Homo sapiens: one gene and its partners. The protein of the gene in region 3 purifies or fractionates together with the protein of the main gene of each other region. This does not show direct contact. Each region holds a gene or a part of one and is shown on either strand. Other genes may lie near its edges.

Region 1 (3,647 bases), on a different chromosome or scaffold from region 3:
GTGGTCCCTACCCTCAAAGAATATCATAAAAAGGCCAGACGTGGTGGCTCACGCCTGTAATCCCAGCACTTTGGGAGGCCAAGGTGTGCGGATCACAAAGTCAGGAGATCGAGACCATCCTGGCTAACAAGGTGAAACCCCGTCTCTACTAAAATTAAAAAAAAAAAAACATAGCCGGGTGTGGTGGCGGACGCCTGTAGTCCCAGCTACACAGGAGGCTGAGGCAGGAGAATGGCGTGAACCCGGGAGGCGGAGCTTGCAGTGAGCCGAGATCACACCACTGCACTCCAGCCTGGGCGAGAGCAAGACTCCGTCTCAAAAAAAAAAAAAAAAAGAATATCATAAAAACATGTGCACAGGTATCTATAAACCTAAATGAAAAAAAGATCACTCAAGGTCATTATTTGAAAATGAAGAAAGCCAAGGCAATGTAAACTTCATAATAATAATACAACAGCAAAGAATGGGAAGTAATCTGCTTGCTGTACTTGCAAATATTCATTACTTGAATAAACTGAAAAAGAAATCTAAAATATGAAAGAATAACTAAATGGAGTCTATGAAATAAAATGGAAAGAATTTTGATAGTTTAAGAAGAAAATAATGGCTGGGCAAGGTAAGCACCTGTAATCTCAGCTACTCAGAAGGCAGAGGTAGGGGGAATCACTTGAGGTCAGAAGTTCAAGACCAGCCTGAGCAACATAGCAAAATGTCTCTAAAAAAAATTTAAAAATTAGCCGGGAGTGGCAGGGCATGCCTGTAGTCCCAGCCACTTGGGAAGCTGAGGCATGAAGATCCTGAGCCCCAGAATTCAAGGCTGTAGTGAGCTATGAATGTGCCTATGAACAGTCACCACACTCCAACGTGAGCAACATAGTGAGACTCCCATCTCTTAAAAAAAAAGAAGAAAATACAAAGGATGAGTTAAGTACTACCTTAAATACTACCTTTTTTAAGTGTAGAAAGTTTAAACGATGAAGTTATCTGACTGAATCTCTTTGCTGATAGAAGAAAACAAGCCATGATAAAAATAGCCAGACATGGCCGTGCGCAGTGGCTCATACCTGTAATCCCAGCATTTTGGGAGGCTGAGGCAGGTGGATCACCTGAGGTCAGGAGTTCAAGACCAGCCTGGCCAACATGATGAAACCTCGTCTCTACTAAAAATACAAAAAAATTAGCCAGGCATGGTGGTGCACACCTACAATCCCAGCTACTCAGGGGGCTAAGGCAGGAGAATCGCTTGAACCCAGGAGGCGGAGGTTGCAGTGAGCTGAGATCGTGCTACTGCACTCCAGCCTGGGTGACAGAGCAAGACTTTATCTCAAAATAAATAAATAAATAAATAAATAAATAAATAAATAATAAATAAATAAATAAATAAATAAAAATAGCCAGACACAGTGGCTCACACCTATAACCCAAGCTACTAGGGGAGGATCGCTTGAGCCTAGGAGTTCAAGGCTGTAGTGAGCTATGATTGCACCAGTGCACTCCTGCCTAGGCAACAGGGCGAGACCCTGTCTCTAAATAAATGAAGATGCTATTTTAAAAATATTTCAAAATAAGAGCTTCTTGCTTATCCACCACATAATAATCGGATACCCTGAGATATCTTATTAAGAAACAAGCGTTTAAGACACAAATTTTTCACATAAAGCCAGCATTTTCTTTCATGTATACTTCCTAATAATAGAAAGTCCATTTTCAAGGCTTTATTGTTCTGTGAATCTTACTATCGCTCCAGAAGACACAATGTCAACAACCCAAAGTAAGAATTTAGTTTAGAATTTGACTTTAGCTACCCTGTGGAAAAAACTAAAAATTACAAAGTCATCAAATTATCTTTAAATAGGTTATGTGTGTGCATGCTATGGAAATAATGTATATGTACATACATACATAAACACAAACACAGGCTTAAGTTGTCTGACAAAATCACAATTTTAATAACAGAGAAAGTTAAGTACTAAAACTGATCTATTTAATGACAAGTTAAGGTCAAAGTAAGCCTTGAAATTTTTGTATCTGAAAACCAATAGTAGCTTTTTCTGAAAGAGATTTTTTTTAACTTTCAAATTCCATCGTGACAAAATAAGTCATGGAACACATCTCTTTACAAACACTACCTGAAAACTTTAACCTAAGAAAAACTAAAACATTAATTCAAAATAATTTTTCAAATAAAGTCTCCTTAAATATGAAAGCACTGCAGTTACCCTGTGTGCCCTAAGACGGTGGCATGGTGCAATGGTCCCCGCCCTTGGACATCTCTTTGGTTGACATTAGCACCATTCTGTAGGAGGAACTCACACGTCACCAAAGAGCCCTTAAAGGAAAAAAGAGGATAACTATAGACAAAAGCAAATAACAAGAAACAACAATACATTTCTTTTTAAAAACAATTGGTTTTCGTTACTCAAATAGCATTTCCATTTCCTTCTCTCCAAAACAAAAAATATCCCTCAGCCAAGGCAGAGAAATTATAAATTATATTATTTTCTTCCCAAGAACTAATTCTAATAGAGATTCATTTGCAGTTTGTGAACTAGCAAAACACATTATATACTTTCATTATCGGAATTCTCTTCCACTGCAAAAAAACTTGAAACAACCGAAGTGGTGCTCAGAAACCACTACTATTAATAGCACAGAGGTTCCTTCTATTTTCTAACCCATCTCTTGAAGCAAAGACAATACTAAAGCCAGTTCAGAACATATTATGATTTTTTTTAAATATTTGATTGCTACTGAAAATGTCATTGTATAAACGCATACCCCTAATACAGCCTGAATAAGTGGTGTCGCTTTGTTTTCCTCTGAATTGGCCCAGTTCACGTCTGCACCATGAGCCAAAGCCTCAGCCATTTTAGGAAGGTTTTTTTCATATGACGCCCTATAAAGCTGAAGTCCTGGATTAAGATGTTTCGAGTCAAGAAACATAGAAGAATCTTGCCTTTCTCCTTCTGAAAAGCAAACACATACACATCAATAAAAATGAGCTCTTGGCAGAAAAAGAAAAAATTATTTAATAGGTAGAGTTTCAGTTTTGCAAGATAAAAAGAGTTCTGTGGATGAATGGCAGTAAAGATAGCACACTAATGGGAATATACTTAATGCCACTAAACTGTACACTTAAAAATGGTTAAGATGGGCCAGGCACGGTGGCTCACGCCTGCAATCCCAGCACTTTGGGAGGCCGAGGGGGGTGGATCACTTGAGGTCAGGAGTTTGAAACTAGCCTGGCCAACATGGTGAAACCTCGTCTTTACTAAAAATACAAAAATTAACCAGGCATGGTAGCGGGCACCTGTAATCCCATCTACCTGGGAGACTGAGGGACGAGAATCACTTGAACCCGGGAGGCAGAGGTTGCAGTGAGCTGAGATTGCACCACTGCACTCCAGCCTGAGCAATAGAGCGAGACTCAGTCTCAAAAAAAAAAAAAAAAAAAAAGTTAAGATGATAAATTTTATGTGCATTTTATTGCAATTTTTAAAAAATAAAGCTATGACATAAGAAACCATTAATCTATCATAATGAGCTTATGGGAGATTTTCACATAGCTATTCCCCAACATTCAACCTTCTTCTTCTATAAAGACAATCACTGATATGCCAGGCCTTTCTGTTCTTGCCAGTATCCAA
Region 2 (4,228 bases), on a different chromosome or scaffold from region 3:
CAGTCGCTGCCTGAGTCCCTGTTGGAGCGGCCCAGCCTGGCCTCCAGGTATCTAGGTATCCTCCCATCTCAGGCCAGACTGGAGATTGAGCGCCTGTTGTATACGGGCCCTGGGCTAACCCTCCCCCCATCACACAACTCAACAGCAACGCCCAAGCCACAACTTCTCTGGACCTCAGGTTCCCTACCTGCAAAACAGTGTGGGTAACAGTACCCCCCCAACCCATGGCACTCAAGGAGGGATGAATCGAGTTCAGGAGGTTAAGGTGGGCACCAACAGGTGTCAGAGAAGGGGGCACCAGGGCGGTCCCATTTCATGGTTGAGGACAACTGAGGCTCAGGGATCCTCTGCTTGGAGACATGGCGGTGGGATTTGAACCCAGGTCTGGGTGACCACAGAGCCTCCCACGCAGACCCCACAATCTCTGCAGGGCAACAGGGGTCTGGAGTTTCCCGGTCCTCTGGGATCCCGAGTGGGCCAGATGTCTCGGACGGCAACACACTCACCCAGCCTAGAGTGCCTTCCACCCAGGGCCAGTCCTAATGGCCTGGGTGAAGAACAGAGACTCCTGGGGCCTGGGTCCCACCCGAGCCACCCCCTAGCCCAGGCCACACCTCCACCCGCCCAGGCCGCCAATAAAACAGGCCGGGCAGAACCCAACAGGCCTGGAGTGACACCCCAGAGGGAAGGCACATCATGGGGACAGCGGAGGGGGCAAAGCTCCACCCTCCCGAGAGGCAGCTGGGCCCAGGAGGCCACCCCCAACCCTTACCCTGGCAAAGGAGCCCCCAAGACTCATACACAGCTCCTGGGCAGACAAGGCCTGGAGAGACGAGGAGGCAGGGACCCCTGGGACTCAGATCCCTCCTGTGACCCGACCCCACCCAGGTCAGTGTTGCACAGCAGACACCCCCAAGCCTCCCCAGTCACCGGACAAGAGAGTCCTGTGGCCCCTCTGCCCTAGACACCCTTTACCCAGACCCCTGAGTCTTTCGGCCCCATGGGTGAAAAGGCAGTGGGGGGCAGGTGGGTGGCCCCTGGGAGAAAGCGAGGAGGGCATGTTCCAAAATAGCCTCTGTTCCATCTGTTGTGGGGACAGAGGTCCCAGGTCACAAAGACCTCAGGGCCATAGCGCTGGGTTGTGACCAGGAGAGCCTGGCGGTCCGGAGGCCACCAGGGCGGCACCCAGCCCCCCATCCCCAGGCTGGAGGTCACCCCCCACCCACCCAACCCAAGAAAGTGCTGAGGGGGCATTTCTGACTCAGGGTCTGGTCGGGTCTGTCGCCCCTCCCCCACCTGGGACAACTTCAAGACAAGGCCCCCCCCACGGAAGAGCTCCAAGCAAAGCCCCCCCTCTTTGGGGGCACAGAAGGAAGAGGCCAAAGGAAGCCACTCCCCCCACCAGCCCGCTCCGAGCCCTGCTGGGTTTAATGACCCTTCCGGGTCGCCGGGTGGGGGAGGGGAGCAGGACAGACCTCCACGTTGGGGCCGGTGGAGGGGGCAGGTGGGGATCCCAGATTCCCCCCTAGGTCAGGGCTGGGTGCCCCCCCATCGCCGCCATAACCCTAAACTAGCTACGCCCACCCCCTTCAGACCCCTCCCCCCAAGAGCCCTTTGTCCTCGACCCCCACCCCCATTTTATGACAGCCCCAAGGGAGAGGCTGGGACGGGGCGCTGGGTGGTCGTTGGACCAGGCAGGGGTGGGGGGCGGAGGGATCCTGGGCCACACCCTCCTCCCCCCAGGCCTCCGGAGAGAGGTCACCCGCTCGGCGCGGGCCTTGCAAAACATGGTTATTTAAAGAGTTGTGCAAGGCCCCGGGCCCGCGGGTGGCGAAAGGGGCCCCTCACTCCACGAAGGGAAGAGGAGGGGGAGGGGCGGGGCAGAAAGCTGGGGAGGGGGCTAAGAAAGTCCTGGGTTGGGGGGGCCTGGAGGAAGTGAGAAAAAAACTCAAGAAGGAGAAGAAATAAGAAGACAGAAACCCTGGTCCGGATTTCAAAGGCTTCTTGGAAAGCGGCCGATTTGCATGGGGGGGGGAACCCCTCCAGCCCGAGCGCCTAAAAACGGAAGATAATTGAACCCGCCGCCCGGGGCCGGCGCCGAGCGTTGGAGTTGACAAACGCGCGCTCCCAGCGCTTCCTGCGCCCGCTTTTGTGTCTGGGGGGCCCTGAAACGGGTCAGGGGGCTCTTCCTGGGTATCCCCGCCGAGGAACCGGGCGCCCGGGCCCAACCCACCCCGGCGCCCGGGGGCCGCGGTGTCTCCCCCGGGGGCCCCTCTCTGCGCTGGGGCGGACACTTTATAAATAAACCAGCCCGGCTGGGGAGGCTCGCCGGGAACTACCCTCCCTCCTCTCTGGGCTCCCGAATAAATCCCTGATTTCGGGGAGAAAGAATAAAAATGAAATAAAATATCGGGGTGCAGCCCCCCGCGCGCGCGCAGAGACCATTTCCTTCCGCTGGGGAGGGGGGGGCGCGCACTCGCGACCCCCGATCGCCCCTGCTCGCCCCTGAGCGATTGATCCAGTGGGGAGTGAAGTCTCCAAGCGGGGTGCAGAGAAAACTCCCCGAACCCCAGCCCGCCAGGGCCGCCTTCCCAGTCCGGGACCCCCACCAACATCTCCGCCCAACTTTGGGGACCCCCTTCTTTGGCTTCCAGGACGCACTGCGCCCACCCCGGCACCGGAACCCGCGCTGGGAACGGCCAGCGCGCTCCCCAGCCTTACCGCGCAGGGCGGCTCGTAGTGGGGCGCGCGCCCCGCGCCTGGGGTCGGCCTGCCCGGGCCCGCCTGGCTTCCAGCCGCCGGTGCGCGCCGCTGGCTCCCGGCCCCCGACCCACGGGGCTGTGCCGCGCGCCGACTCACCGAGCCGCCAGCCGCGTCCGCGTCTACACCCCTCCGCCCGATTGGTAAGAGGCGCCCCGCGCGCGGCCGGCCCCCGCCCCGCCCCTCCCCCACCCCCAGACAAATCACCAGGGGACGAGTCGCTCTCGGATGCAAATACCTGGCCGGTGATTCAGCGCCGCGGCCCGGGCGCGGGAGGGCCTCGCCAGGGCTCCCCACTTTTCCCCGCACGCCCCCTCGCCCCCCTCCCGCGGTCTGACGACGCGCAACCAGCCCGGGGGCGCTGGGGAGCCGGGCAGAGTGGACGGAAATTTTCAGGTCGCGGCCCCTTTAAAGGATAATAAATAATAAACGGGAAGGGGAACAGCGCCGCGGGAGGCCCCGCCCCCGGCCTAGGGACGGTGGGCAAAGTGCGCGACGCGGCCCCAAGCGCAGAGGGTGCCGGGGGCAGGGGCTGGGGCGGGAGCGCCCCGGGGGAAGAAGAGGGGACTGACTGGGGCTCCGCCTGGGCGGGCTGGCCGGAGGCATCGGAGCCAGATCCGGGACCAAGTCTCTTCCCTTCTTACGGAGCACCTACGCTGGGCCTCGTGGACTCGGAGTTTCACCTTCGCCCCTTAGACGGAGAGACCCTGAGAGAGTGACTTCACTCTCCGGAGCCGCCGTTTCCAAGTCTGAGAAATGGGCTTGAAAGACCCGGTGCAGAGCTGGGCGGGCGGCGTCGGAGGGAGGGAACCAGGGTCCCGCCGGCCTCCCTCTGGGGAGGGACGGGCTGCAGACGGGGGCTCGGCGCGGGCGTGGGGAGGTGCGCGCTGGGACCCGGAGCCCCTTTGTGAAACCAGGACGACCCTGCCCGGCCCGGCTGTCACCAGCGTCGGGAGCTCGGCTGCCCACCACCCCCCCGTGAAGGTGGTGATGACTTACACGGTCTGAGCGGTCGCTTGCCCAACCACGTGCCCCGCGCCTCCCTCCAGGGAGGTCCCTGCACGTCTCCAGCCCTCACTCCTCTCTGTAGTTGGCAACCTTCTTGTCGCCACTGCGCAGAGCAGGAAACTGAGGCACCGAGCGGGGTGCAAGGAAGGCGGTCGGGAGGGGGACGCGTGCTCTGCAGGGAGCTGTGTGCGCGGGAAGCGACCCCAGGGGGCTAAGCGCAGAGGCCCAGGCTCCAGCCCGGACGTGAGCCCCAGGGGAGCCTGGAGGGCGGGCAGGGGCCACCCCGGGGGACCCTCACTTGTGGAGGGTCTCTGGCGGGCTCGGGTCCCCGGTCCTGAGTGTTGGGGGCGGGGTTGTAGTCGTCTCCCTCCCCTTTCCCTAGACTAGCACACGGCATTGCAACTTTCTCTCTGTCCTTCCACCTAGTTGCACCTCCTCCCTCCACAAAACTGCAACCGGG
Region 3 (3,647 bases):
ATTATGGCTCCCTTTGGATTACCTGTTTACCTTTTGACATTTTTGGGGCTAAGAGATCTAATTAGCTAAGAAATATTGAAGAACTGATTAAGTGATTATTCTTACCACCACCACTCCTATCATAAGCACTTATAACATTATTTATTCAGAGAAATAAATGTGAACAAACTTCTTCTGTAAAATCCCTTCCCTTCCTAGCATGTGAATCTCTTAGAAGCTATAAAGAATTATATTTCACTACTCCTTAAACAGGAAATAAAATAAAGAATTATGTTAATTATGAGCATATTTTAGAATTCTCATGATTAATAAATATGTCTAACTATATGTGTAACTTACATACCTTTTGAACTGGTAAGTAATTTGTACTCATATGTGACCTCAATTTATACCAACTTATTATTAAATTGATTATGGCAGTTGACAAATTTAAAGTTAAAATATTTTAAGAAATCATAAAACTAAATTTCTCAGGATAGTTTGATTTTAAAAGTCACTGTATTTTTAAAAAATTTATGCAAAATGGATATTCTTCCATCTCAATACAAAATATAACAGAAAAAAATAAAATAATAGAATAAATGCTAATGGTAACTTTAAAATCTGGGATAATCTGGTGAATGCTTCTTGAACCTATCTGCCAGATAGCAGATCATTTTCAAAAGGGATATTTTATTTTCTCATTCCCATACAGACAGACAAAACAAATATAGTAGTTTGCAAAGATAATACAAAAAACAAATACATAAGGAAGCAGAAGTGATAAGCAACACACAAACTTCATTGCTCTTACTGATTGGTTCAGTTAAAAATAGAAAGAAATTTCATAATCAGATTTCTGTAGTGTGAGTACATAGTATAGTTAAGTATTCTGTAACTTAAAAGTTATACCAAATACTTCATCAGGATTATTAGTGAGCTGTTCTTTTCTAGCTCATCCCTTTCCAGGTCTTCTAAAGTAAACAACTTAAAATGAGAAGATTTTAGAGTCCTAAAATGTAGTTGGTGACTCTGAGTGTACTTGTATAAGGATTTTAAAATCCAACTATTTTAACACTGAAAACAAGAGAAAATACCTAGAAAAACTGTAGATAATTTAAAAAGTAGTACTATTAAAGAGAGCTATGCTTCCAGACAAAAATTCAAGTTAAAACTTGTTCTTCCTGCTTCTGTCCCGCAGCTGTCCATCAAAAGCAGCTTTCTCCCTGCGGTCTATCAAATATTTCCCTCACAAATCAATTTTACACATGATCAGCCCATACCCCTACTGAGCTGAACCTCCCTGTTAATTAAGTGAAGAAATTACCATATATATTATATTAATGCAAACATCATTCAGCTAGTAATTCACGGCTGATCTGGATAATGGAAAGGTTGAACACCCATTAACCCAAGCCAACAAAATGGGTTGGCTGAGAAATTCTAGCAGGTCTCATGTGACTTTTCCCTCTAACTGCAGCTCTGCGGTATCTGCTATTGTAATAATTAAAATCCTCCCAGTAGATCAATACTGGAATCTCTTTATGGGAAGTGCCCTGATGGAAATGTCTCAAGGAAACTGGGGCTGTGGAACTCTGAAAAATTCATTTTTTTTTATCTGACAATTATCACCACACTGCAGACTAATTCAACAGTGCACCCCTCTCACTCTGCTTTGAATGCACTGGAGATTGACATCTTAAAAAACCTAACATCTCATTTTAACAAATAAAGGCACTATTTCCACATACAGTTTGGAATTATCAGCAATCATGAAACCACACAAAAAATTAATATACATTAAGCACTTCATCTTCTGATGGCTTCCTCTGAGTTTCAGTTATCGCTGCCTTCTCCTCATTTCCTTTCTTTGTATCTTCCTGTATTGATCTCTGCCTTTTCATCTCTTAAAAAAAAAAGAGGAAAGACATGTAAAATTATTGTAAAGCTTGATATTTGTGTATTGAAATGTGAATTTACATTACCAGATTATATACATATATACTATATATATATGCTATATATATATACTATATATATATACTATATATAGATATCTATATATAGTTAAACCATAACATGGAAAAACATTTTAAAAAGTGTTCTACCTGGTCTATTCTCAATATATTGGCTGAAAGACTGAAGTTGAGTTTTTCTGACTGTAGAATCTTTGCTGAACACAACAGGATTTCTAAAACGTTCTGTTGTTTTTTGTAATCGTTCAGTCCGGAGATCTTCTGTGCCACTCTAAACGTAAAACAACACATGGTAAGAGAGTCCTGATCTCATAAACATAAAATTACACATTAGTAAGGCAATTTTTACTGATTTAAGATAACACTGATTTAGAAACTTTTTGCAAGAAAAGGATTTTAAAGCACTTTAAAGAGCTCAACTGCAAGTTCTGTTGCCTGTAATCACAAACTTTGGGACACATGGTTTAACTCTTGATAACTTTGATACGAATGTGTCTTCCACCAGTGATACATATCATTTAAAAGCCATGTTGCCTCCTATTTCCCCCACTATTCTGTGTCATCAGTTTGTACAGCCCCACAGACTTGTATGACAACAAGAACTAGTTTCTAATTTTATGCCCATTGAGATAAACCACTAATGCTGGATGAAGGCTAAAAGGTAGGATTATAATACTACCCTACTGAACTGCATTTCATCAGCTATAACTTTCCAAAGCCAGATTTGTAAGTAAGCCCTTTACAGCTAAGGAAACTACAATTATCTTTTCCGGAGCTTCCTATGTTAATACTGGTAACAAATTCAAATGGTTCTATCAACAAGAAATATCCCAGAAGACTGAACCACTGCAGTGTGTGGAAGCTGCAGATACCGAGGTGCTGTGTACCAAACAAATATTTCATTTTATACCTAATCTTTTATTATTTTTATTAAGTGTTTTGAAAGTAAATAGGGAAAGGCTAAGATGCATGACTAATAGCTAAGCCTGCTGAATGCTGAAACTGGTTATCAAAAGCTACCAAGACTTTGCCCTTCCTCTGCATTGAGACAATCAGTAATGAGGGAGCCCTCCAATGGCCTATTCTCTAGCCTCAAGGAGGCCTGGGATACAGAATCCTCAGGGGAAGGTAACAGTTTATTCTTTTCCACAAACACAGAATGCCTCATTTATAAATGTGTAAACTGCATTTTATTAAAAAAAATTAAAACCCAAGTCAACGCTGAAAGCTTCAAGAGAACAGATGGACTCTATATGTTCTTTATAAACACCATTTTCAAAATCTTAACTAAAAGGAATCATACAAAGGCAAGCTGTTTAAAGCACACCTTTTGTTGGAATAACTTTAAAGACTACTATATAAGAGTGTTTTGGAAAGCAAAACCAATTTTATCTATACAGATAAACCATAATAATGAAAATAACACTATTTTATTTTTTTAAAGTTATCTAATGAATTTATCATTAATATCATGCTTATAATATCCTAGCCATATAGTTATGATAGCAACAGTTTTGGCTTTTATTCTATTTTTTTAAAGAAAAATAGAGTTCTACTGTTATATAACTATCCAATAGTCTAATACTCAAGTCTTTACCAAAATAAACAAACACAGCTAAATTTTTTTAGGCCTGGCAACATGCTAAAATATCAGTGCGATTAGCCAGCAAATCCCATCTTAAGAAACCTTTT

What was found.
Region 1: the proteins of EHBP1 (region 3) and ACAP2 purify together in Homo sapiens (affinity purification with mass spectrometry, with the first as the bait; one large-scale study listed by BioGRID). This does not show direct contact.
Region 2: the proteins of EHBP1 (region 3) and ARID3A purify together in Homo sapiens (affinity purification with mass spectrometry; one large-scale study listed by BioGRID and IntAct). This does not show direct contact.

The regions. Positions count from the first base shown.
Region 1 is NC_000003.12:195,289,487-195,293,133, forward strand, and holds part of ACAP2 (arf-GAP with coiled-coil, ANK repeat and PH domain-containing protein 2), read right to left. Parts: intron 2,967-3,647; coding exon 2,779-2,966; intron 2,330-2,778; coding exon 2,220-2,329; intron 1-2,219. UniProt on the Homo sapiens protein: GTPase-activating protein (GAP) for ADP ribosylation factor 6 (ARF6). Doesn't show GAP activity for RAB35.
Region 2 is NC_000019.10:924,691-928,918, reverse strand, and holds the start of ARID3A (AT-rich interactive domain-containing protein 3A), read right to left. Parts: upstream 2,885-4,228; 5' UTR 2,860-2,884; exon of another isoform or gene 2,722-2,859; intron 1-2,721. UniProt on the Homo sapiens protein: Transcription factor which may be involved in the control of cell cycle progression by the RB1/E2F1 pathway and in B-cell differentiation.
Region 3 is NC_000002.12:62,992,109-62,995,755, reverse strand, and holds part of EHBP1 (EH domain-binding protein 1), read right to left. Parts: intron 2,227-3,647; coding exon 2,088-2,226; intron 1,886-2,087; coding exon 1,779-1,885; intron 1-1,778. UniProt on the Homo sapiens protein: May play a role in actin reorganization. Links clathrin-mediated endocytosis to the actin cytoskeleton. May act as Rab effector protein and play a role in vesicle trafficking.